7 linked regions of the Homo sapiens genome follow. The protein of the gene in region 4 interacts with the protein of the main gene of each other region in a pairwise test. Each region holds a gene or a part of one and is shown on either strand. Other genes may lie near its edges.

Region 1 (3,500 bases), on a different chromosome or scaffold from region 4:
ATTCTTTCTTGCCAAGTGCCTTTCCAACCTCCTCCCACGTCTCCTTCCTCCCCAGATATTGTGTGCCTTCCTGTTGTTGCCCAGGTTCCCAAAGTCCTATCTTTCTAAGAAGGGACCTGTTTTTCTGAATTATTCTCTTCCTCTTTCTATATAATCAAATCTCTAATTTGTCCCATAGTGAACGGTACAGTCTTGAAAATGGCATAAGGGGTTCTAAATCGCCAGGTACCCCTGCTGCTCATCCAACCTCATCTCCTGTTTGTCCTCTCACTGTGCCTCAGCCACACTGACGTTCTTACTCTTCCTGGGACACACAAGCCTGCGTCAGCAGTTCCTTCTGCTGGGATGCTCTTCTCCAAAGTATCTCCGTGGCTCGTCCCCTCACTCCTTCAAGTCTTTGTTCAGCCGTAAACTTCTCAATCATGCCCATCCATTCTCACCACATTGTAACTGCTACCCACTTCTTCTAAGCATTCCAATTCCCTCTTACTCTGTTCTTGTTTTCCCCTCATAGCACATATCACCCTTTACTACTATATAATTTGCTTCTTTATAATGTTTGTTACTTATGTTCTGTCATCCTCCACCACCATATCAACTAACAAGGTCAGGAACCTGTGTCTTTCCTCTTTACTGACATATCCCAAGCTGCTGAAGCAACAGGTGCTCAGTCAATGTTTCAGTGAATTTACTAGAACTATAAGTATGAAGAGTCTCCTATATTATGTCTTAGGTAGACAAGAAATAGATAAGGAAGAGGAAAGATACAGCAATCAAGGTAGAAAATGACTAGAGGAACAGGCATGGTTTTAAAAAGAGATCCACTGCTATGATATCAAGACCTGAGTGGACTGGAATGAGGTGACCTGGATTCTTGCTTTAAGTTTACCAATGACCTTAGCCAGGTCACTTAAGCTCTGGGGCCTCAGACGTTCTTTATCTACAAAATGAGAAAACTAAACTAGGTGACCTTTTGGGTCTTATCCTACTACCCAATTCTGTGTTTGGGTTTTACTTTAGGAAGACCAATTAACACTTACGGAAACATTGCCTGGTACTAACTGGCATCAATTTCACCTAATGTCTCCTGAACTCCCCATCTCCCACCAAAGGTCCTGGGCTGGGATGATGTCTTTTAGTCTATTTCCATCTTTTCCTCAAGGGCCTTATGTTCGTATAGGTCTCTTAAAACTCAACCCAAGAAGCTAAACTGTGGACTGGGGTTTCAGAAGCCAGGGCTTTGCTCCTCCATCGTAAAATCTGAGTAAACCCACATTGTTTTATTTTTCGCATCTCTAAAATTGAGATACAGCAATGGGTCGGCAGATAATATTAGACAGAGGGGAATAAGGTGCATTTGATGGAGCTCTGCTAGAAATAGAAGCACATCAGGTGCCATTTCAGGAAATTACACGGGAATTTGGCTCATTATCCATCTTGCTAAGCTGCCACATCGTAAAGTCACAGACTATTAATAGAATACCATTGATAACTCAGAGTGTGCAGGTAGAGTTCCTCCATGTTGATTGTCGTACACATTGTCTCCAGTTTCTGAAGTAGCCATGATTTGTTTGTGTTTTAAGGTACACTGTTTTCAAAGAACAGCCTTTAAAGCTCTTTTGAATTCAAAGATCTTTCAGTTACTCAAGGAATGGGTCCAGTTTTCAGATTCTCCACGCCATGGGTGCATCTTCCCTTCAGCTTTCTTCATTTTGGTCATTGCTCCAGATGTTCATTGTTTAACACAAGTGGGTAGGGAGACGGAGAAGAAGGGAATTTCAGGCTCATATTTTGGTGTCATGGGCAGATCTTGGGTGAGGTTTTCATTGTTAGTTAAACTAAGTTTGAAGGTTTACACTGAATTTCTTTCCCTACCGTCCTCTTTGGCTACTTAAATAGATCATCAGGACTGTTTGTTCTTCTGTTGAAAGTGCCCCACACTGCCCTGGGCATAAGCTAAATTCTTTCTCTCCCTTTTAGAAGAGAAGCCAGATTGCTCCAAGGCCCGCTGTGAAGTCCAGTTCTCTCCACGTTGTCCTGAAGATTCTGTTCTGATCGAGGGTTATGCTCCTCCTGGGGAGTGCTGTCCCTTACCCAGCCGCTGCGTGTGCAACCCCGCAGGCTGTCTGCGCAAAGTCTGCCAGCCGGGAAACCTGAACATACTAGTGTCAAAAGCCTCAGGGAAGCCGGGAGAGTGCTGTGACCTCTATGAGTGCAAACCAGGTATGCACGAGCTCTGTCTCAGCAGCCTTGTTCCTTTGCATCAGAGGGTAGCAGATCCCTCCTCAGCCACCCCTGGCCTCTCCTTTCACACGAAGATGGGCCTTCTCACCGGTGTCCTGTGAATCTGCCACTTTGGGCTAATGGCAGCTTGACTTCTGGCCTTCTAGTCAGAGAACCAGAGTGATCATCCACTGGTACATAAGCGCCTTCGGAGAGCGAGCGTGTCTTTTCCTCTTTTCTTCTTTTTTTCCTTCAAAGTATGCTTGACTGGGGAGGTAGGGTTAAAATTTATGGTACTATGGCAATCTGCTTCATTTCCCCAGAGAAGGTCAGAGACCTTATTTGCAGCTATATCTGCCACTTTGAATTATTACATTTAAAAACAATCATCATACGTAAAACAGAAAGTTATTTTTAGATGAATACATGCATCAAAACGCCAGAAGTTTCATAATGCAACACTCAGCCCCAATCTTTCTCTTTGCCAATTCCCCCGCATCTGCCCTCTTTACTTTATAGCATGTGCCAAGTCATCTTTGACTGTTTACTCACCCTCTTTGCCAACATTTGATGTACTGTTGTATCCCAGCTGTTTCTTGCTTTATATTATTTCTAACATCCTTGCTCTTGTGGCAGCATTTCCGATGTGGTCTGTGAACACTTCTGAGTTATAGCGATTTCCTCTTTGCAAGTTTCTAATCATCGGCCAGTTGTTTTTTTGTTTGGGTTTTTCTTTTTCTTTCTTTCTTTTTTTTTTTTAACTGCTAGATAAACGCTCCAAGCAAAGTGATCCTTTGTCCGTCTCTTGAACTATTCTATCAATCAGAAATGCCTCTGGCTAACTGTCACTATCCATGTAACCACTGCTGGTTTAATTCTTTCTCTGTCTTCATTGTAGCTCTTAAATATCTCATCCCCACCTCTTTCCTTACACAGAAAATTTGAGGAATATTGCAGTTCTATAGCATTAACTGGAGTAACATGTCGACACTAGGACTGGGTTTGTGGAAGCAAGGAGACTTTGGACATTTGTCAAGAGCTAGTATTTCATTTAGGGACTCCAAAAGCAAGTAAATATAACAATAAACGGTGCCTCTCTGTTTGCCCCTTTCAGTTTTCGGCGTGGACTGCAGGACTGTGGAATGCCCTCCTGTTCAGCAGACCGCGTGTCCCCCGGACAGCTATGAAACTCAAGTCAGACTAACTGCAGATGGTTGCTGTACTTTGCCAACAAGGTTAGTTTGCCATTAGTTTGTCAAGTTTTCTCCTCATTTGTT
Region 2 (3,500 bases), on a different chromosome or scaffold from region 4:
TGGCTTGCAGCCTCCGGGTCTCTGCCCCTCGGTGACGTGACTGTCCAGCCAGCCTCCCCAGTCTCTCCTCACTGTCCTCACATGGCTGCCGCCATCAGACACATCCCATGCTCAGACACGCACCTACTGCACTAAGGAGCCTCCCGAGCTCAGGGCCCGGCTCTCACAGCTGTGTGCCCAACCTCCAGCCAGCTCCGGGCGACTCCTGACAGCAAGGCTGTGTGTGCCAGTGAGGACGTGAGGGCAAAGGTTGGGAGGGCAAAGACGGGCCGGCGGCACACTCACCTGCACTCCCCAGGCACGGTGCATCCCCCGTGGAGCAAATTACACCCTTGTTTACACACAGCTGCGAACAGAGAGGAGCGAGAGGCACAGCTGCAGCCAGCCTGGCCGCAAGGCCTGTGCCCGGGGCCCTGCCCGAGGCCCTCCCTGCCCTCCACGCAGCCCAGCGGCCCCCTCACCTTCCTTGCACTCCTTGCCCATCCAGCCGTCCATGCAGGCCTTGTTGCCGTACTGGTCGCAGGTGTAGTGGCCGAAAAAGTCGTTGCGGGGCCGGCAGAACTTGTTGCAAGTGGCGCTGTAGTAGTTCTCGTCGCAGCGCACGCGGATCTGCAGCTCCAGGTGCGCCACGTGGCCGCTGAAGTGCAGGCTCTTCCAGCGGTCCTCCGGGTTGATCATGCCGGCATGCGACACTCGCTCGATCAGCAGCTCCTCTTGGGGAGGCGGCAGAGTCAGCACAGGCCAGAGAAACCAGCCCGGCCAGGGGTCCTCCAGGAACAACGGGGACGGGGCAGAAGCCTGCGGCTGCTGCAAGGCCGGGGCACAGCAGGCAGCAGCACACGGAGGGCAGGGCCCCCGGCCAGGCTGCTACAGAAAGCTCAGGGCCCCGAGAGGCCTCTCCCTCCCGCCACCAAGCCTGCGCCCCGCTCCCACCCTAAACGCAGAGGGTCGGGGGGCCCGGCTAGGGGCTAGGGGCCCTGCAGGGAGGGCTGCTGAGACCACAGGCTCCACAGAGAAGGCACGGCTGCTGCCAGGGCGTGAGTCTCACGTCCCACACCTGTGCCCACCCACCTGCAGCCCTGCTCCAACACCTGCACCCACCTGCGCCGTGTCCAGCCCTCGACAGCACGGACATGGTGCTCAGTTGCCCTCCCCTCTCCTGCGCTGTGACTTGCTCCCAGAAGTGCCAAACACCACTACCGTCCCCACCTTAAGACAAGCCTCCCCTCAGGCCCCCAAGACAGGCATAGGTCCCGTGACCCGCTGTCTAAGCCTCACTTTAAGTAAGCCACCAGGAGACCAGGGGCCAGGGGCACCACAGCTGCTGGCGCTGGTATGCAAAGTCCGTGATGCCGGTCCCTGCGCTTAGGCACAGGCTCGACGTTTTGCACAATAAAAGGTGAACGGGTCCTCCAGACCCCACCTCTCCCGCCTCGGGCCAAGGCCTGGGAGGACACTGTGCTGGCCCACTCCCCAAGGGGCGTCCCGGCCGCCCCAGCCTCTCCAGGCTCACGTTGTCAAGAGCCCTGACGACCTTGCTTGGGACTCAGCCCACCTGTCTCTCTGCCACCCCCTCAGGAAACACCCCTGCCCTGAGCCGCTGGGGTCCCCACAACTGCTGCTCCCCACCTGGGCACCCCCACCGCCGTCCCTGCCCTGAAAACAGCCCCTCCACTCTGCTGGCAGCCAGGATGCCCTGGCCCCGCTCTCCCTCCTCCAACCCATTGGCCAACCCCATGCCTCCACTTCTGAGAGCCCCTCTCACCCCCAGACTGCCCCTGGTCCAAGTCACCCTGACACGCCCAGATTCACGTGGCAGCTCCTCCTCGGTCTGTGTCCTGGCCCCACAGCCCACCCTCCATAAGGCAGCCACAGCTTGCCAGGCGGAGCCCGTGTCCTCTCAGTGGCTTGCCAGCCTCCATGATCTGAGCCCAGCCCCGGCTGCTCCCCCTGCACAGCCAGCCCGCTCCTGCCCAGACCTTCACACGAGCTGCTCCCTTGGCCTGTGGGTGCTTCTGCATTCACCCATGGAAGTCATCCCGTTACCCCTGCAGGGCCCTGCAGAGCCCCTGCCTCAGGGAGAGGGCCACCAAGGCTCCATGCTCCAGTACAGACAAGCAGAGGGGGCCACAAAGCCAGAGACACACTCAAGGGTGTCCCCTCCACTAAGTCACTGCCATGGGCCCCAAAAGAGCACACCCAAGAGGAGAACAACATAGGCAAAGCCAGGACTGGGGAAGAGAGTGCATGCACAGCTCTGCAAGTCCCAAACGTGGCAGAGCTTCCTGGCAGCCAAAGCAAAAAGGGAAACAGCACACATGATCCTCAGGGTAAAGCAAGGCTTTGTCCCAAGCAGACAGAGGAGCTGGGCCCTGCCACAGGCACGCTGAAGCTGAGAGGAGCTGCCACCTGGCCCAGGGCTCACTCACCATTCGGGGTGGTATCGTTGTCCCAGTCCCAGGCCTCCACGATGAGGGTAAAGGAGCGCTGCAGACATGGGGAGGCGGGTCAGGTACCTGAGGCCACACCTGCCTGCCTCGTTCAGGGTGGGACAAGGCCCAGGGCTCAGACGCTGCCCCTGGGTCTGCCAGGCTCTGGCCCTTCCTCCCCAGCCAGGGACCCACCACCCTCCTCATCCTCAGGCCACATCCTCTGCAGACCCAAAAATGACCCAGCTCAAGGGAGGGAGACTGCCCCTCCAGGCCACGCGGGCTCAGGGGCCTGGGCTCCCTACCGTTGGGGTGCCAGAGGCCCAGCCTGCCCTGAGCTGGCTCAAGTCAGCACGGAGCACAGGAAGAGCGACCGGGGGGAGAGGTGGGCAAAGGGCAGCCTGGCTGGAGTGGCCACAGACAGGGGCCCCATGGGCAGCCGGGACCCGAGCGTTTCCTGTGGAACGCCCCTTGGTGCCTCACTGGGGGTGACCACGGGGGAGAACGTGGGGCCCCATCACCACGCTGGCGGCCTCCACCAAGTGCACGGGGTGGCCAAGTACAGGGCGCCCAGCCAGAGGCCCCAACAGGCCGGAGCTCAGGTCCTGCAGGCATACAGCACACAGGCAAACCCACACCTACCTCCACCCTCACACAGAACAGGTGGCAGGAGGGGCCCTTGCGGTACAGTTGGGGAAACTGAGGCCAAGAGGTCCTGGGACTGCCCAGCACAGCCTCAGACCATGGCCACTATGCCCCCTCTGCCCCCGGGCCACCTGGCCCTTGTACCCCAGCCATGGCGACAGGCGATGCTGTCAGCCAAGCAAAGAGACCACAGGGCTGGCCCCCTGCTCCGCCTAGTGCAGCCCACGGAGACCGTCACTCACAGACATGCTCAGACAGGTGGGACCCCCGGGACATGCCCTGTACTACCCAGCACTGGGTACCCACATTCCACAGCCTCTCAGCCCTCACTGCCCAGGAACCCCCCAGTCTACCCCTGGTGTGCTCTTGACCCCTGAGCCCAGCCCTGGCTCCTTCCAGGTGGGGCCCAGAGGAGGGGGCTGGGGC
Region 3 (3,158 bases), on a different chromosome or scaffold from region 4:
GTATAATCCACTCCCAGCATGCTTCAGCTTACTGAAACCAGATTTCTAGCCTTTACCTTTCTCCCAAGTTCCTGAAAGAGATGATAAGCTGCCCTCCATAGTTTATGCTTCCTGATTTCTCAGCTTGGAAAGCCTTCCCTGCCCCAGCCATGAAAACTCCATCTAACCACCACCCTTCAAGGCCACGTTGAGATGCCTCTTCCTTCCTTCAGCCTTCCCTAATCCCCCTGGCAAAATTACCCAACTCTGCTCCACATGCCCCAGTATACTTATCTATCTCTTACTTAATTCCATTTTACTTTCTAAGTAATCATATACACATTCCCTCAATTATAATGTCCCTGATGACAAGAACTGGTGTTTAACTTTTATATAGGCAGAGTCAGTGGTTAACATTGGGGTTTGAATTCAACAGATGAACAATAGGTGCTTGATAAAATATCATGAAATGACACATATTAATCTGCCTAGAATGTCTCAGCTCTGTCTGTCCTGAATTCAATACAATGAACACCCAGTCTTGTGTCTAAAAGCAGGTTGAACACAGTCCAGATGCTCTCACACCTCCTTCCTTGCAAACAGAATCTGCCAGTTATATGATTTAATTAGATCAGTTCATTAGTTTAGTTAGTAAACTCTTTGACCCTACATCTCTACAGATATAAATGAGTGTGAGACCACAAATGAATGCCGGGAGGATGAAATGTGTTGGAATTATCATGGCGGCTTCCGTTGTTATCCACGAAATCCTTGTCAAGATCCCTACATTCTAACACCAGAGAAGTAAGAAAAATCAGAACTTTTGAAAGTGAGGATTTTCTGGTCTTACCAAGCCAAACTGCTGAATACTTTTGTTTGTCTCTGCAGCCGATGTGTTTGCCCAGTCTCAAATGCCATGTGCCGAGAACTGCCCCAGTCAATAGTCTACAAATACATGAGCATCCGATCTGATAGGTCTGTGCCATCAGACATCTTCCAGATACAGGCCACAACTATTTATGCCAACACCATCAATACTTTTCGGATTAAATCTGGAAATGAAAATGGAGAGTTCTACCTACGAGTAAGTATCCTGAAGGCAGCCTTAACTATTGAGAAAGATGGGAGTTTGTTGTTGTTGTTGTTGTTGTTGTTGTTGTGTGGTATCCACATGTGGAAGGAAAGCAAACATTTAAAGTGTCTTATGTGTAGGCATTGTGTAAGGCCTTCCAGCTACATTATTTCATTTATTCCTCTTGGTAACACTGCCAGATAGATATTAATATTCATCTCCATTTTTTACAGAGGAGAAAAGTGAGATGCAGAAAGATTAAGTAGCATCCCTGAAATCACTCAAATATTAAGTTTGGCAGACTCTGATAGAGTTGTGTGTGACCACGAAAATACAAGCCTCCCATCCCCCCGCCTCTGCCCCCACCCAACATACCCCCCAAGTAGGTATCACTAATCATTGATGGTTAATTAATTATACATAGACATACATATAATTCAAACCCAAAATAATTCCTGGAGCTCCTAAAGAGTTTTTCAGACATCATGAATTCATCATTGTTACATTCACAAGACAGTTTGTGTTCACACCGAAACTAAAACCTATAAGTATGTGAGAAGTGACCCCACCTCCCCGCACAGTATGTGTCAGTAGTTGTACCATTCTTGCCAACTTCTGGGCTGGCAGTATGGAGTCATCTCCCTATCTTTCATTGCCTGTGTGAAATCTACTTTCTGAATTCTGCCATTTCCCTCTTCACACTGTCTCCTGGGTTATCTTTGCTTCCTCACATCCCTATCTCTCTTCCTATAAACTGGCTCCCGTCACTTCCATGATCCCTTCAGTGGCTTCTGAGCTGGTCTCCCTGACCCCAAAGCCTCAGCCTTCCAGTCTCCCTACAAAATCTCAGCAAGTTCATTTTAGGTTAAAATTTGGACATATTTTAAATACGGCTCACCACTTCATGTGAAAATGATGGCACCCTACCAAGCAGTTTGCAGAGTTACGGTAACTGTTTCATGCTAATGATGTTATTCATCCAGTTACAATTTTCTCAAAACTCCTTTGGGCACTCTTTATTTTTAATCAAATTTTAAAGCCAATATTTCATTTTGAGAATATGAATTAAATTGGGAAATTCATCCTTGTGGTACAGTTTACAGATTTTTAATGTTTACCCATTTATCCTGTTTTTTGATATATTAATTTCCCATATAGCTCCAGAGTTATGTGATATTATTTCTTTGCCAGTATATTAGAAAATGATTAATTTCTCATGACCAACTTCTGAAAAGAAAGACCCAATGCAAAATGCAATCTATTACAATTATTTTTTTGAATAAAAAAGAATATATTATAGTTCTTTAACATTTGATATTTTAAATTTGACATATTCTTGATATTTGTAAGAAATTTCCACTGAATGAATTTTACACAATTCAGATACTACCAATTAACTAATTCTAGCCTAAACAAATAACATTATTTTTAAATAACAAAATCTTTAAAAATAATTTTCTATTTTGAACTTTTAGCCATAATGTAAGAAAATAAAATTTTCTAGCAGAATAATCAAAGAGTGAAACAAAGTTCCAACATGTTTTTTCTTTGCAATTAAACATGGCACTTTTACAGTTATTTATTATTCATATCAGTGCACTTACCGACTTCATATTTTCAAATCAAAATACAGTGTTTTTCTCCAGTGAAATCCTTATTCTCATGACTGATAGAAAACATTGCCAATTTTGATATTTCCAGAGTTAATGTTAAATTATTTGAAAGAAAATTATTTAAAATAATAAAAATAGACATTTCAAGACTATTTCTTATCACATAATTCAAAAAGTACTTGGATCAAATCCTACAGAGTTTCTCCACTAAAATTCTACTTGTGCAGAGGGCATTGAAACGCATGAAAATCAACAGCAGGTTAGTTAGGTTAATTAATTCGGTTAATTAAGCACCTACTACATGCTCAGCTCTATGCTAGGTGTCATGAGGAATTAAAAGGACATGTAATGCACATTTTCTGATTTCAAGGAGCTTTAAATATTATTGTGTAGAAAAAGTTAACATCTATGAAAATAGAAGTGGGGCAATTTTGTGCTTAATTCCATGGTCCAGATACATCAAAAAATCAATGTGGGCTGTCAAAGAAGGTTTC
Region 4 (3,500 bases):
AAATGGAAGTAGCAGATTTTAAGAAAACTGATTCAGACTTTGAACTTGTATGACCTTATATTTATTGATTTATTTGAGTCATAAGATTTCTGGGTTTTTTTTTTTTTGAGAATATGAAAGACTAGTTAAGAAAATTTGTGTGTTTATTTGATATTTGCTTTCTGAAAATATAAAAAATTATGAGAGAGCTAGCTATATATGGTCTTTATTCTGGGTCTGTGAAATAATGTAAGGAATTTTGTACTATGCTTTTAGAGCAAGAGTTATCCTGGGGGTCTGTGACCCTCCAAGGGTTGGTTTCAAGGGATTCCTGAACTCCCTGTAGTTGTGACCAGAACTTTTTGTGTATGTGTATTTTTCTGGAAGAGGGTCTGTAGTTGTTTTAGAAAAGAGATCCAGGACTTAAAAAAATTAGAGACACATCTTTTTATTGAATAAAATGGAAGTTAGAATTCTTTTCTTTTCTTTCTTCTTTTTTCCTTTTTCTTTTGAAACAGGGTCTCACTTTGTTGCCCAGTCTGGAATGCAATTGCATGAAACTGGCTCACTGCATCCTTGACCTCCTGGGCTCAAGTGATCCTCCTGCCACAGCCTCCCAGAGTGCTGGGATTACAGTCATGAGCCATCACAGAATGACCATTCTAAAGAGAAAAAAACATTTTTGAAAAGTAGATCTGTGTGCTCGTTACTTGCCTTTTAAAGTTATCTTCAGGCTGGGCACAGTGGCTTATGCCTGTAATCCCAGCACTTTGAGAGGCCAAGGCGGGTGGATCATTTGAGGTAGGCCGAGGCGGGTGGATCATTTGAGGTCAGAAATTCAAGAGCAGCCTGGCCAACATGGTGAAACCCCATCTCTACCAAAAATACAAAAAAAATTATCTAGGCGTGGTGGTGTGGCCTGTAATCCCAGCTACTCAGGAGGCTGAGGCAGGAGAATCACTTGAACCCAGGAGGCTGAGGTTGCAGTGAGCCGAGATCACTACACTCTAGCCTGGGCAACAGAGTAAGACACTGAAATAAATAAATAAATAACAAACAAATAAATAAATAAAGTTGTCTTCAGACTTAGAGGTGTAAAAGCACTTCCATTTTATTCCCACAACAAAGCATTGCCTATCAGTTGATAAGCCAAGCTGGTCTGACGTGCTAGTCCTGCATGTACTGTGGCTGTGTTTTTAAAAAATTATATCTAAAAATTCAGACCAGATCGTTTGATGGTAGATAAGCAAAGATTTGATCTTGACACCAGCCGTTGGAGTAAATGGGTCTTTCAGCTCCACTCTCTTCTCTCCAGAAAATTTGAAATTTGACTCAAAGGGAATCATTGTAAGAAAATGTGTTTGTGCCTTGGCAGGACAGTAGAACATGATGGGAAAAACACAGTTTGAGTCAAAATAGACTTAAAATTCAAATTTGGTTTCCTTTATTCACTGTAGCTACTTACCCTGCTTGACTCTTCAGTTACTCATCTGGATATGGCTAACTAGTAGAGTTGTTGGGAGGCTAGCTAGAAGTTTCCCGTATAAAAGTCTTAGCTCCTCTTTGGCCCGCAAGAAGGACTTACAAGCCAGGTTTGGGGAACCATTAATAAACATCTGAGGAAACATGTATATTCATGGTATAGGATAATAAGTACATTATTTCCAAATTGGTGTGATGAAGATATTAACACTTAAAACATTGTTTTTTAAGAAAAAGATTTTCAAAAATGAGTTAGGATTGAGTGGTCCCCAAATATAGATATTTAGAGGAAAGTGGAAAATGATGGTTTATTTGGCAGAGGGGAGGACATGGATGCTGCTGGGCAGGAAGAAATGATAGCCACCCACCAGCATTATATTTCTCTCTGTGGGCAAGATTCCATTTAACATTTTCTCTTCACTTATAATCTGAATTAAAAAACTAAAATACTGCACATGTACTTTATAGTCCATCACCCCTAAAAGTGCTTCAGCACTCCTTTCGTTTTGAGACCTTCACAGGTAACCCAGGGACTTCATGGGTGGAAGTTACACTTATAACTTTAGTTGTCTAATTCTGCTGTCTTTAAAATGCCTTCACAGTTGGGTACCTGTGTTGATTTTTGTCAATAGGAAAGGGTCTGGCAGGACTGAATCATATTTTACTTTAAATGCTGAAGTAAGAGAGGGCATTATGAGTCAAAAGAAAGTGTGAGATACGTAAATAAAATACTGTATAATGCTTATGGCCATAAAAATAAACTTGCTTCTACTATTTCTATAGTCTTAACCTTTCCTGTCATTTATTCGTGGTGATCATTTATGCTTTCTGCCCTTGGGTTGGGAAATGGTTATGAACACAGCCTTTAGGCTTTGAATATGGCCTTGATTCTCATTTCCTGAGCTCTCTGGTTGTGTTCAACTTGGTCCAGTCTCCTTCTTTGAGTCTAGAGGAGATGACCATTAAATGGGATAATAAATGCAAAAAAGTTTTGCTTACTCCTAGGCTCCTAGTAAGTACTCAGAAAGTGGTAGCCATTTTGAAGACAGTTACATTCTCATCTTTAGAAGGAGATATCATACATCTTTTTCTTTTCTTTTCTTTTTGTTTTTTTTTGAGACAGAGGCTCATTGTTGCCAAGGCTGGAGTGCAGTGGCATGATCTTGGCTCACTGCAACTCCTGCCTCCCAGGGTTCAAGCTATTCTCGTGCCTCAGCCTCCCTAGTAGCTGGGATTACAGGCATGTGCCACTACGCCCAGCTCATTTTTGTATTTTTAGTAGAGATGGGGTTTCGCCATGCTGGCCAGGCTGATCCTGAGCTCCTGACCTCAGGTGATCCACCTGCCTCGGCCTCCCAAAGTGCTGGGATTACAGCTGTGAGCTACCGCACCCTGCTAGAGATACTATACATCCTTTTAAAGAGAATACCTTTATTCATCCTTATTCCCACTTAGACCTTCTGGAACCATCTTACTTTCAACTCAGAAAAGCCTTTTACATTTTCTTGTTATGATAGGCAGGTATCCCAACATCTTGATGACCTATTGGACTTCTCCATTGTTCTTAGCCAATGGGGTTGCATTCTCTATTGGCCTGGCAGGTTATATCAAAATCTTGGATATGTCAGGGGCCAAACCAACAAGCCTGCACAGGTTTGGAGCTGTGATCCATCAAACAACTGTGTGATTTTATAGCCTGGAACAGAGATCAGCAAATTTTCTGTAAAGGACCATATAGTAAATATTGTTTACTTTGCCAGCCATCCAGGTCTCTACACCTACTCAGCTCTGCCATGATAGCAGGAAAACACTCATAGATATAAATGAATGGGTATGACTGTGTTCCAAGAAATGTTGATGAACACTGACATTTGAATTTCATGCAATTTTTATGTGTCACGTCATATTTTATTTTTTCAACCATTTAAAAATGTGAAAGTCATTCTTAGCTCCTGTTATATACAAATCTTAGCTAGATTTGGTCCATGGGCCATAATTTGCAGAATCCTTGCCTAGAATATTAGATGCATAGATTTGTG
Region 5 (3,500 bases), on a different chromosome or scaffold from region 4:
TTCAAGGATAGTGCATGGACTAAAACCAGAATGATCCGTTATTTATATCACCAACATAGAAACAAGCTACTTAAATTGTCCTAGATATCTAACCGTACACATCTTTTAAAAAAGCTGAAACAACAAACCTCATGTTTCTTCTTTCATGATAGGAGACAATATTGTTTTATTGATTTTTAGCTGGTTCTTTTACAAGGTCCGTAAGATACATAAGTGAAGTAGATTTATTACATTTTCCAAAGTGGAAATCAATATGGCAAAGATGGGCATATTTCTTGGTTTGTTGTGGTCAGTTACATTGAGTTGAAACATTTAAGATCTGTTTTTTACCATATTTTATTCATACAGTTGGAGAAAAACCATTACAAAGCTCTTTCTCCTTATTCTCATTGGAAAATAGAGCTCTGTGCCTTTTGCTTCAATGAGAGCACAAATACAATGAATATAGGCAGAGCATATAGAGTTTGTAGATTAGTGACAATGTTGGAAGCATTCTAATTTGATTATTATTTCTACAAAAATTTAATTTTGTGGCCATTATGCTTTATAGTCATAATTTTGTAATCAACACTAAAACTAAATAAATAACCTGAAGGCTTAACAGTAACAACTAAATAGCAGACGTGTCAGATTTTTCTCAGCATAACATAGCCAGATATCTGTAACTGCTCTGATTTTTTTAAGTGAGCATTTCCATTTTGTAATTTTTTTCCTACAGAGCAATTTAATTCAGATTCACTTACTACAAATTCTTACCAGAGTAGATTGAAGTAACAGGACAAAGAAATATAAAATGCTTTAAGCTTTGAGATGCCATTTTTATCTATTTCAAGCTCAAATTTCTAGTTCTTTCAATCAATGCAATTTGTCAATCAAGCAAAGCTTTTTGAGTGAACATTTACTGCTGTTTTATGAAATGCATTAGCAAATTTAAAAGTTACTATTACTAAAAGTTACTAATAATGTATATGCGATGTTCCTTTAATATACATTTAATATGTGTATACTTAATAGTGCATATCTTGAAACTTAGCACTAATGACTAACAGGGAAATACTTTCTGTCATTTAATTACCAAATAGAGTTGAGTCCTCTTACACCCTTAATCTTTCTGTGAGATTATTCTTCTGAGCAATAGTGACAAAAATATATATTGAGTGATGGACAAAAATGAAATATAGCACAGATGGATATTTCCAGTAAGAAAAATGCATACAGTAATAGGCAGGAAAACAACTCAGACTGTTTTCTGGGGTAAAGAATTTGAATGAGGCCGGGCACGGTGGCTCACGCCTGTAATCCCAGCATTTTGGGAGGCTGAGGTGGGCGGATCACAAGGTCAGGAGATCGAGACCATCCTGGCTAACACGGTGAAACCCCGTCTCTACTAAAAAATACAAAAAATTAGCCAGGCATGGTGGTGGGTGCCTGTAGTCCCAGCTACTCAGGAGGCTGAGGTAGGAGAATGGCGTGAACCCGGGAGGTGGAGCTTGCAGTGAGCTGAGATTGTGCCACTGCCCTCCAGCCTGGGCAACAGAGCGAGACTCCATCTCAGAAAAAAAAAAAAAAAGTATTTGAATGAGTTTGTCATTCACTACCTTATAAACAACTACTATAATCTCTCAGCTTTTGATAGGAATATATTCCAGAAAGTGTATTTTGATATTAAAGTCATTTCTTTCTGTCAGATAAGTACTGATTCATAGAAGTTACTATTAAATACTATTTTCTTTATCTCTTGTTATTAAATATGAGTCATAAAAATATGCTCAGTTTTGTCAAATTTATCTCAAGTACTCATTTTTATTACATTTATTTTGTGTTATTTTGAAAATAAAGTTTATGCAAAACAAGCTTCAAGTATTGCATTAGAGGTAAGCATTCTTCACAATTTAGTGCTTTGAAAGCACTATTTTATTTATTATGTCTCCATTCTACTCCCCTCTGAGTTATTTGTTTCTAATTGATAAATACACACCGTGTGGGGCATTGTGCTGGTACCAGGTGTATAATGATAAGCAAAACCAGACACAGTCACCCTTGGAAATTATTCTCTATCAGCTTATTATCTGGCACTCTGTTGTTCAATATGCTAGTCAGTAGCCACATGTGGCTATTTAAATTTTAATTAATTAAAATTAAATAATATGAAAATTTTAATTTATTAGTTACACTAGCCACATTTCAACTGCACAATAGCCACATGTGGCTACTGGCTGTCATATTAGATAGCACACTGTGTAAGGCCATTCTTGCATTGCTATAAAGAAATACTTGAGCTTGGGTAATTTACAAAGAAAAGGGGTTTAATTGGCTTACAGTTCTGCAGGGTCTATAGGAAACAGTACCATGGTCTGCTTCGGGGAAGGCATTTCACATGGCAAGAGTGGGAACGAGAGAGAGAGAGAGAGAGAGAGAGAGAGAGAGAGAGAGAGAGAGAGAGAAAGTAGTTGGTGGGTAGGTACCAGACATTTGTAAATGTTGCCTTTATCTATCAAAAACTACAAACTTGAAGTTGTGCCAGTGGACCTCTGTTCTAACATTAGAATAGATAACTCGATCTAAGGAAAAAATACCTATAAATAAGCAATATTATAATAAAGCTTTTAATATATGATCAGGACTTTGCAGATCAATGGAGGAAGAAAACATTATTTCACAAATAATGGAATGACTAAATAACAATTTGAGGGAAATAACACACAGTTATAAAAATTATGTTACATATCAAAACAAATTCCACATGGAAAAAGTGTTAAATATTAAAATAAATTAAAATAAAGAAAATATAATTAAATATTTATCAAAACTCTAGAAGGGAGATACTTTTTAAAATTTATCAGTGATAAAATATACCTGAAAGAAAAGATTAGTGCTTCTATAGATACATAAAATTAGCAAAAAAAAAAAAAAAGTCACAACTACATACTAGAAAAACAGCTTCAGCAGATTTGGTTTCTTTGTTAGATTAAAAACATAAACATTAATAAGAAAAGCACTTACTGCTGGGTGCAGAGGCTCATACCTATAATCCCAACTGCTCAGAAGGCCCACTTGAGCCTAGGCGTTCAAGGCTGCAGTCAGCCATGATCATGCCACTGCACTCCACCTTGGGTGACAAAGTAAGACCTTGCCTCTAAAACTTTTTTGGAAAGCAATTATTTCCCCCATAAATAAATCTGCAAAGGATAAATAAACAACTCACTAAAAAAGTACACCTACTAAAATAAAAGAGGAAATCATTGAGCCTTTAAATAATTGAACCTTAATTGTAAACTAAAATTATAAATAATTATTTTCACATACTATAGTAAAAAAGTTTCTCCTAATAATTTCTAATGCTGACAGAGATATACTGGAATTATTATTTTTGTGCACTGTTAATATCATTAAAAAATACACAATGCAACACATACTATCCGCACCCCCATATACACACACAAATATATTGTTCTCTTTAATCCCAGGTCTGAGAATCTAACCTAAAGAAATAATCAAAG
Region 6 (3,500 bases), on a different chromosome or scaffold from region 4:
GGCTACTTGGGAGGTTGAGGCAGGAGAATCACTTGAACCCAGGAAGTGGAGGTTGCAGTGAGCCAAGATCACACCATTGCACTTCAGCCTGGGTAACAGAGCAAGACTCAATCTCAAAAAAAAAAAAAAAAAAAAAATGCCTGAAAAGCTTCCATGTAAAGAATTTATGGTGATAACTTTTTTTTTAATTTTGTTTTTTTTTTTTTTACGGAGAGATGCAGGGTCTTGCTCTGTCACCCAGACTGAAGTGCAGCGGCACAATCATAGCTTACTGCAACCTGTAATTCTTGGGCTCCGGTAATCTTTCTGCCTCAGCCTCCCAAGTAGCTAGGGCTACAGGCATGCACTACCATGCCCAGCTAATTTTTCTTTTTTTAAGAAAGACAGTCACTCTGTTACCCAGGGTGTTCTTGAACTCCTGTGCTCAAGCCATCCTCCTGCCTCAGCCTCCCAATGCACTGGGGATTATAGGCGTGAGCCACTGCACTAAGGCTAATTATTTTGTAAGCTTTAATAGGTCAGTAGGGTACTTACAGGTGTGCTACCCAATGAACATCACCTCATTCACTTAGTCTGTCACCACACATTTACTGAACACTTTTTTTGTGCCAAGTATTGGGGGGTGGGGCACAAAAATGAATGAAACACAGTCCCTGCTGAGGAGGAACTCACAGACTGGAGGAGGAAACACATCATTAAATAATTATTGTACAATGTGGAACACTATATAGAGTACATTAGATTGTATGCAGCTTGGTGTTAGGGATTGTGTCTTGGTCACTATTGCAATCCTGCTATGCCCATGGCCTTGTACAAAGCAGGTCCTCAATAAATTTTTGGTTGAATAAATTAGTAGTGTTTGGGGTATATAGAAAGCAATACAAGCTGAGTTACTAGGAAGGCTCCCCAGCAGAGGTGATGGCTGAGCTGAAGAAATCTCTTTCTCCATTGACTGTCAGAATGCCAGCACTAGGGTGATGTCACCCTCCTAAAGTTCTAGGAGTCTTTTGGGTATTGTTAGACCCTTCAGTGTACTCTACACCCAGCTCCTCCCAGACCTGTCAGTGTTCCAGGGTACAATGTAGACTTGGTTTCCTAGACAATTGTATATCTGCCGTTTTGCTTGTGAAAAATACTATTTTTATCAATATGACAAGCCAACCATAAAAGTATACGTGAAAATTATTGTTGCTTGTGGCCCTCCCAACAACTCATCTATCCTGTGTATTATCTAAAGAACAAAACTGGTTCCCCAAAGTGGTTATGCCTCCAATTGAAGCATCATTTTATTCTACTCTTGTGCATAAATGATTTTTTATTCAACTATGTCAACTTTCCTTCTGTTCATATAGAATGCACTGAAGGCCCAATTGACCTGGTCTTTGTGATCGATGGATCCAAGAGTCTTGGAGAAGAGAATTTTGAGGTCGTGAAGCAGTTTGTCACTGGAATTATAGATTCCTTGACAATTTCCCCCAAAGCCGCTCGAGTGGGGCTGCTCCAGTATTCCACACAGGTCCACACAGAGTTCACTCTGAGAAACTTCAACTCAGCCAAAGACATGAAAAAAGCCGTGGCCCACATGAAATACATGGGAAAGGGCTCTATGACTGGGCTGGCCCTGAAACACATGTTTGAGAGAAGTTTTACCCAAGGAGAAGGGGCCAGGCCCCTTTCCACAAGGGTGCCCAGAGCAGCCATTGTGTTCACCGACGGACGGGCTCAGGATGACGTCTCCGAGTGGGCCAGTAAAGCCAAGGCCAATGGTAATATGGGGTGGAGGTGCGGTTTACACCACTCAAGGTTCAGGTTTCTTAAACTCACTCAGTGGTCTCAGCTGGCCATAAGGGTAAGCTTCTTTGAGTGTACAGAAAGGCCTCCTGGCAACTGCCATTATACATCTTTACTACCCTGCCACCTAGAAGCCTTAACAGGACCCCACAGGAGTTAAATAAAGTGCTCAGGAAGGAGTCTGGCTACTAGAAGGGTAGGCTAAGCTGACCACAGGCGGGTATCCTCTCACTGTGATTTACTAGCCAGTGTGTGATCTCCAGTGTAAGAATCGCCTAGATATACACAATAGTTCCGAAACACTGGTCGGCTTGCTCTAGAATCAACTGAAGACTTTGTTAAATTGTTTCTGATGGGAACTTTTACTGTGTATATTTATTCTTGTATTTTTTAACCAATACTTCAAGCGAGCATTCTGAAAATGCAATAGCCCCTAGGGTGGATAATACTCTTGTGTTTCCAGGAGGCAAAGTTAGCTTTTCCGAAAATCAAATGATGGAACAGATTATGACTCTAAGCTCTTGTTGCTCAGTAAAGCCCAGCCTCTTCTCTGAGGTTTTCCTGACCTGAGGGTTACTTCAGTTGTACAGATGTGAAGCGTGCTCGAGGAGTATGACCCTTGGCTAAAGGAAACCCAAAAGGTAGGATAATTGGTAGAGACAGTTTATGGTGAAGTTTCTAGATTCCTTGAGGGAGATAAGAAAACTTGAGGTTGTGAACTAGTTTGCTTGAAAACTGCTTTTTTTTTTTGAGATGGAGGCTTGCTCTGTCACCGAGGCTGGAGTGCAGTGGCGCGATGTCAGCTCACTGCAAGCTCCGCCTCCCAGGTTCACGCTATTCTCCTGCCTCGGCCTCCTGAGTATTGGGTACTACAGGCGCCCGCCACCACGCCCAGCTAATTTTTTTGTATTTTTAGTGGAGATGGGGTTTCACCGTGTTAGCCAGGATGGTCTCGATCTCCTGACCTCATGATCCACCCACCTCAGCCTCCCAAAGTGCTAGGATTATAGGCGTGAGCCACTGTGCCCAGCCGAAAACTGCCTTCTTAAAGTACTTGTTGAGGACACACTGCTTTAGCAAGTCCTGTAAGAGGAAATAAGGTATGCACAGATCAAGGCCTCATCTAAGACTTTATGGACCCAGTGCCTAGATCAGGCCTGGCACACAGTAGATGTGTGACAACTACTTGCTGAGTGAATGAAGAAAGAAGTGAGAGTACTGGCAGTCCCATTGGTGAACTCCATTCCTCCTCACAGAAAGGCTGGTTCACATCGACATTCACTCGCTGTCTTTGTGAAGGAGGTCATTTTATTGATACTGCGTACCTTCCTCTTTTTCTAGCCCAAGAGTGGTAGCCACAAAGTGTCCTGCCCTGAATCATCTGGATAGATTGTAAAACTGGCTGTTCACACTAGCCTAGATTGCTAGAGCTCATGTCAAACTCATAGGCCCCCTAGTCTGCATTCTTAAAAAGAATTAATTAGGGGAAGCATCTTAGTCTCCAGAGACAGTGGTTAGCCCTTTCATCTCACTGAGACTAATCTACCTTACCCTTTGCTCCACTCAAATGTCTCTACACATCACACAAAGACAGGTGGTAGCAGAAACTGATGTTTACTTGATTCTTGAATCAACAAGATTTATATGAGGTGACATCCTCTTATGAATTTAACTAGTCTTATGTATAGCAAACAGAATCTTAAAATAGT
Region 7 (3,500 bases), on a different chromosome or scaffold from region 4:
CATCCTGTCTGCTCCCTCATGGCTGCCTGGGAAGGGATGTGTCGGTGGGGGGGTCTGGAGAGTGCTTCCTCCTCAAGGCAACGGTAAGGGTCCTGACTTCCCGTCTCTCCGATCTGCTCCGTTGGCCGGCAGGAAACTTTGCTGCCCTGACACTAGCCTGGCTCTTGAGGGGTCCTTGTGGGGTCCTGGACTGTCCACTGCTCTTGCCTTCTCTGTGCATGCCTGGGGGCTATGCAGGGGGAGGGGCAGCACCCAAAATAAGGAACGCTGCGGCCTTTTCCCCAGCCTGTGGTCAGTGGTCCCCAAGCTGCCTTCAGGGTCCAGGGCCTCAGTGCAGCACAGAGGAGGGTCCCCTGGGTCCCCCACTGGGAGGACATGATAACCTTGGTCCTCTTCTGGGCACTCATGGTCTGGGGAAAAGATGGGGGCATCGTGGACTCAGGATAGGCTGTCAGGAGCTGAGGAGGGGCTGGAGAAGGGGGTTAGGGCGAGGAGAGGTTCCTGTCCCTGCAAGATCAGGAGAGGGGGTCACTAACCCCACAGCCAGGTGGGTCCAGCCCGAGAGTCCGTGACTTAGTAGCTGAGGACTTGCTCTAGGGTCAGAGGGCACATGGCAGGAGAGTCACCCCGGCTGAACGAGGCTCTGCATCTTACCGAAGCCGCTCTACGGGTGCCAGGCACTGGCTCTGGAGCGAGTGCCCAGGCGGAGCAGAGCGCTGGGAGGAGGGTCCGTGGGGAGCCCCTGCCAGGTGGGTGTGGCTTAGCCCAGCTGTGGGCAGTCGCACTCAGGGACGAGCTCCAGGTGGGGAGCCTGGGACCCACAGCCAGTATGCAGCTTGGGGAGCACCCGGGAGGGGCTGTGGCCACCGGACCCCCTGGGGTGGGGCTGGCCAGGGGAGGGTTAGCCAGGGAGGACTGTCATGGGAGGGGCCTTGCAGGTGAGCCAGGGGCCAAGGGGAGCCTCAGGAGGGAAACAGCATGAGGAGTGGGGGAGCCCAGGAGCTTCCGGTGGGACATGTGGAGCTCTGCTGTGGAAGTAGACCAGGGATATCTCGGGTGGCTGGGGTCCCTGGCTGCCGGGACAGGGTAAATGCCTCCCAGAAGCCTGGGGTGAGCCCTGAGGGACAAGGTCTCTGGAGCCAGTCTGGCTGGAGAAGGGACAATTCTGTGTGCCCACCCCTCCCCTCACACTGGGTGGTGTGGGAGGTGGGTCCATCTCCTGCTCTGTAGGAGATAAGGACATTGAACCCCACCCTGGGCCCTCTGGTAGCCAAGGCCTCACCCTAGTGAGGGGGATGGATGGAGGGAGCTTGAGCCTAGCTGACCTCTCCCCATCTGACTCCGACCCCACCTCCCAGGGCACAGGATGGCGTCTGGGCAGCCCCTAGTCTTCAGAAGCTACCCCTGAGACCACAGGGTCCCACCTTGTATGGGAACCCCATCCTGGAGACAAAGGCCCCTCCGAGCTCCCCAGGTCGGGGAGGGCCACGCCCCTCACCACCCCTGCCCGGACACCGCCTGAGGTGCACCTGCTGCTGGGCCACACCTGGACTCAGCTCTACTGAGGACTTCCTTTCCTCAGTTTCTCACCTGGCCCTGCCAGATCTTCCTGGCCCTGCCCAGCCAAGGCCCCTCCCCCAGTCAACAACCCTCAGAAAGGCTCCTCCCCCCTTCTCTGCCTAGGGAGCCACATTCCTGGCATAACTAAGACAGGTATGTGTCCCTCCCTCTGCGCCACCTTTGGGCGGGGGAGGCCCGCTGCTCCCTCCGGAAGGAGACCCCCGCCCCTGCTTTGTCAGGGAAGTGGCCTGGCCTCCGCAGTGCCAGCTGCCCAGGGCTGGCGGCTGAGCGGGCGACTCCTCCGGCCCTCGCCACCCTGTCCTGTCTGGGCACTGCCCATGCCCTCCCAGCCCACCTCACAAAGGCTGGTCCTAGAGCCTCCCTGAAGCCCCCAGGAGGGACTCCTGGCTGAGGGCCGGCCAGGCCGCCCGGGGCCCATCCCTCCCTGCTAGGAGCCAGGAGCAGAGAAAGGGAGTGTTGTCTGCCCCTGCCGGGGCCTGGCACAGGGACAGGGCAGGGGGCCAGGGTCAGAGTGAGTCTGGCGCCTTCCCAGCCCGGCCCTGCCCAGCTCTGAAGCCCGGGGTCCCGGCGGCCTAGTCCCGGGCCCGCCTGTATTCCGGCGTGTGCACCCTCCCTTCCTCCCTGCCTGGCCAGCTGCCTAGGCCTCAGGACGGCAGTCCTAGGGGAAGCCCAGAGTCCCACGGCACCGGGGACAGCATCGGTGCTGGGGTTGAGGGGCCCGACAGCCCCAGACCAGGCTCCCCTCAGTGTGGGGCAGTCTAGGAGTTGGGGGAGGTTTCTGGGATGCAGGAGGACCTCCCATAGGGCTGGGGCCAGCCCCCTCTCCTGCCCAGGGCTCAGCTCCTGCCCCCAACTCCTCCGCATTCCTGCCACCCTCTCCTGCCCCCTCCTGACTCCAGGTTCTCATCCTGCCCCCTGGTTCCCCCACCCCCACCCCATGAGCCCCTCTCTGGCCCTCCCCCAGGCAGGTCTGGGCTCGAGGCTGCTGCCCCAATCTCCCTCCTGCAGCTGGGAGGGGGTCTGCCGGGTGGGAGGGCGGAGGGCCTACCTCTGTCCCTCCCCACTCACCTCTGTGTCTCCCCACCCAGGGGCTCCTGGTAGGAAGTTGGGGCCCCACCTCTGTTTCTCCTGGAGCTGGGAGGGGGGTCTGCCGGGTGAAGGGCCCACCTCTGTCCATCCCAACCCCGGGGCTCCTGGTGGGAAGTCGGGGCTCGGTGCTTCCCGCCTGCGTGAATGGACTTGTCCCGTCTTTGACTTCTCCTGGGCTTGCCCCTGCCTTGGCCTGGGGGGGGGCTTTGCTGGCTGAAACCAAAGGGAGTGAGGTGGTGGGAGGGGTAGGGGAATCGGGTTGGTCAGTTCTGTGGAGATGACCTCTTTGAGAGGGCCGGGCTGAGCTGGTGGAAGGAACTCTTGGCTTTTTCCAGACCCCACCCCACTCCCTCACTCCCCACCCAGAGAACAGCCCTGGCTCCATTGTTCCTGCAGACTAGAGAGGGAAGGTTGTTTTGGAACTGGGCTCGCTCCCGCTTGTCCACACTGGCCGCTCTGGTGGGGCCTCTGTGGGTGGTGGTGGGGATGGCACCTGCTGCAGCCTCCAGGCCAAGGTAGGGGAGAAGGAGGTTAGGGTGAGGACAGGTTCCTGTCCCTGCAAGATCAGGAGAGGGAATCATTAGCCCCACAGCCTGCAGAAGGCGGGATGGGGCTGCTCCAGGGAAGGGGGTGCCCGTGCCTCGGGGCCACAGGTCCGGCCAGAGGTCATTCCAGCCAGGCCCATGCAGCTTCCTTCCTGAAGGGCTGACTCTGCCCCCATCACTGCAGGAGGGTGGAAAACAACTGCAGAAGCAGACGCCCCACGCCCAGGGCTTTGCTTCCACCTGTGGGACCCAGGTCCACAGCCCCACCAGCGGCCTGGGTGGGGC

Evidence for each region.
Region 1: the proteins of ATXN7 (region 4) and CRIM1 interact in a two-hybrid assay, tested with the Homo sapiens proteins (one study listed by BioGRID and IntAct).
Region 2: the proteins of ATXN7 (region 4) and JAG2 interact in a two-hybrid assay, tested with the Homo sapiens proteins (one study listed by BioGRID and IntAct).
Region 3: the proteins of ATXN7 (region 4) and EFEMP1 interact in a two-hybrid assay, tested with the Homo sapiens proteins (one study listed by BioGRID and IntAct).
Region 5: the proteins of ATXN7 (region 4) and NELL2 interact in a two-hybrid assay, tested with the Homo sapiens proteins (one study listed by BioGRID and IntAct).
Region 6: the proteins of ATXN7 (region 4) and MATN2 interact in a two-hybrid assay, tested with the Homo sapiens proteins (one study listed by BioGRID and IntAct).
Region 7: the proteins of ATXN7 (region 4) and AGRN interact in a two-hybrid assay, tested with the Homo sapiens proteins (one study listed by BioGRID and IntAct).

What each region holds. Positions count from the first base shown.
Region 1 is NC_000002.12:36,439,278-36,442,777, forward strand, and holds part of CRIM1 (cysteine-rich motor neuron 1 protein precursor), read left to right. Parts: intron 1-1,980; coding exon 1,981-2,223; intron 2,224-3,337; coding exon 3,338-3,458; intron 3,459-3,500. UniProt on the Homo sapiens protein: May play a role in CNS development by interacting with growth factors implicated in motor neuron differentiation and survival. May play a role in capillary formation and maintenance during angiogenesis.
Region 2 is NC_000014.9:105,155,277-105,158,776, forward strand, and holds part of JAG2 (protein jagged-2 isoform a precursor), read right to left. Parts: intron 2,488-3,500; coding exon 2,430-2,487; intron 714-2,429; coding exon 462-713; intron 347-461; coding exon 286-346; intron 1-285. UniProt on the Homo sapiens protein: Putative Notch ligand involved in the mediation of Notch signaling. Involved in limb development.
Region 3 is NC_000002.12:55,868,625-55,871,782, reverse strand, and holds part of EFEMP1 (EGF-containing fibulin-like extracellular matrix protein 1 precursor), read left to right. Parts: intron 1-659; coding exon 660-783; intron 784-867; coding exon 868-1,063; intron 1,064-3,158. UniProt on the Homo sapiens protein: Binds EGFR, the EGF receptor, inducing EGFR autophosphorylation and the activation of downstream signaling pathways. May play a role in cell adhesion and migration. May function as a negative regulator of chondrocyte differentiation.
Region 4 is NC_000003.12:63,866,867-63,870,366, forward strand, and holds part of ATXN7 (ataxin-7), read left to right. Parts: exon of another isoform or gene 1-47; intron 48-3,500. UniProt on the Homo sapiens protein: Acts as a component of the SAGA (aka STAGA) transcription coactivator-HAT complex. Mediates the interaction of SAGA complex with the CRX and is involved in CRX-dependent gene activation.
Region 5 is NC_000012.12:44,516,316-44,519,815, reverse strand, and holds part of NELL2 (protein kinase C-binding protein NELL2 isoform b precursor), read left to right. Parts: intron 1-3,500. UniProt on the Homo sapiens protein: Plays multiple roles in neural tissues, regulates neuronal proliferation, survival, differentiation, polarization, as well as axon guidance and synaptic functions.
Region 6 is NC_000008.11:98,026,064-98,029,563, forward strand, and holds part of MATN2 (matrilin-2 isoform a precursor), read left to right. Parts: intron 1-1,352; coding exon 1,353-1,766; intron 1,767-3,500.
Region 7 is NC_000001.11:1,023,120-1,026,619, forward strand, and holds part of AGRN (agrin isoform 2 precursor), read left to right. Parts: intron 1-3,500. UniProt on the Homo sapiens protein: Isoform 1, isoform 4 and isoform 5: neuron-specific (z+) isoforms that contain C-terminal insertions of 8-19 AA are potent activators of AChR clustering.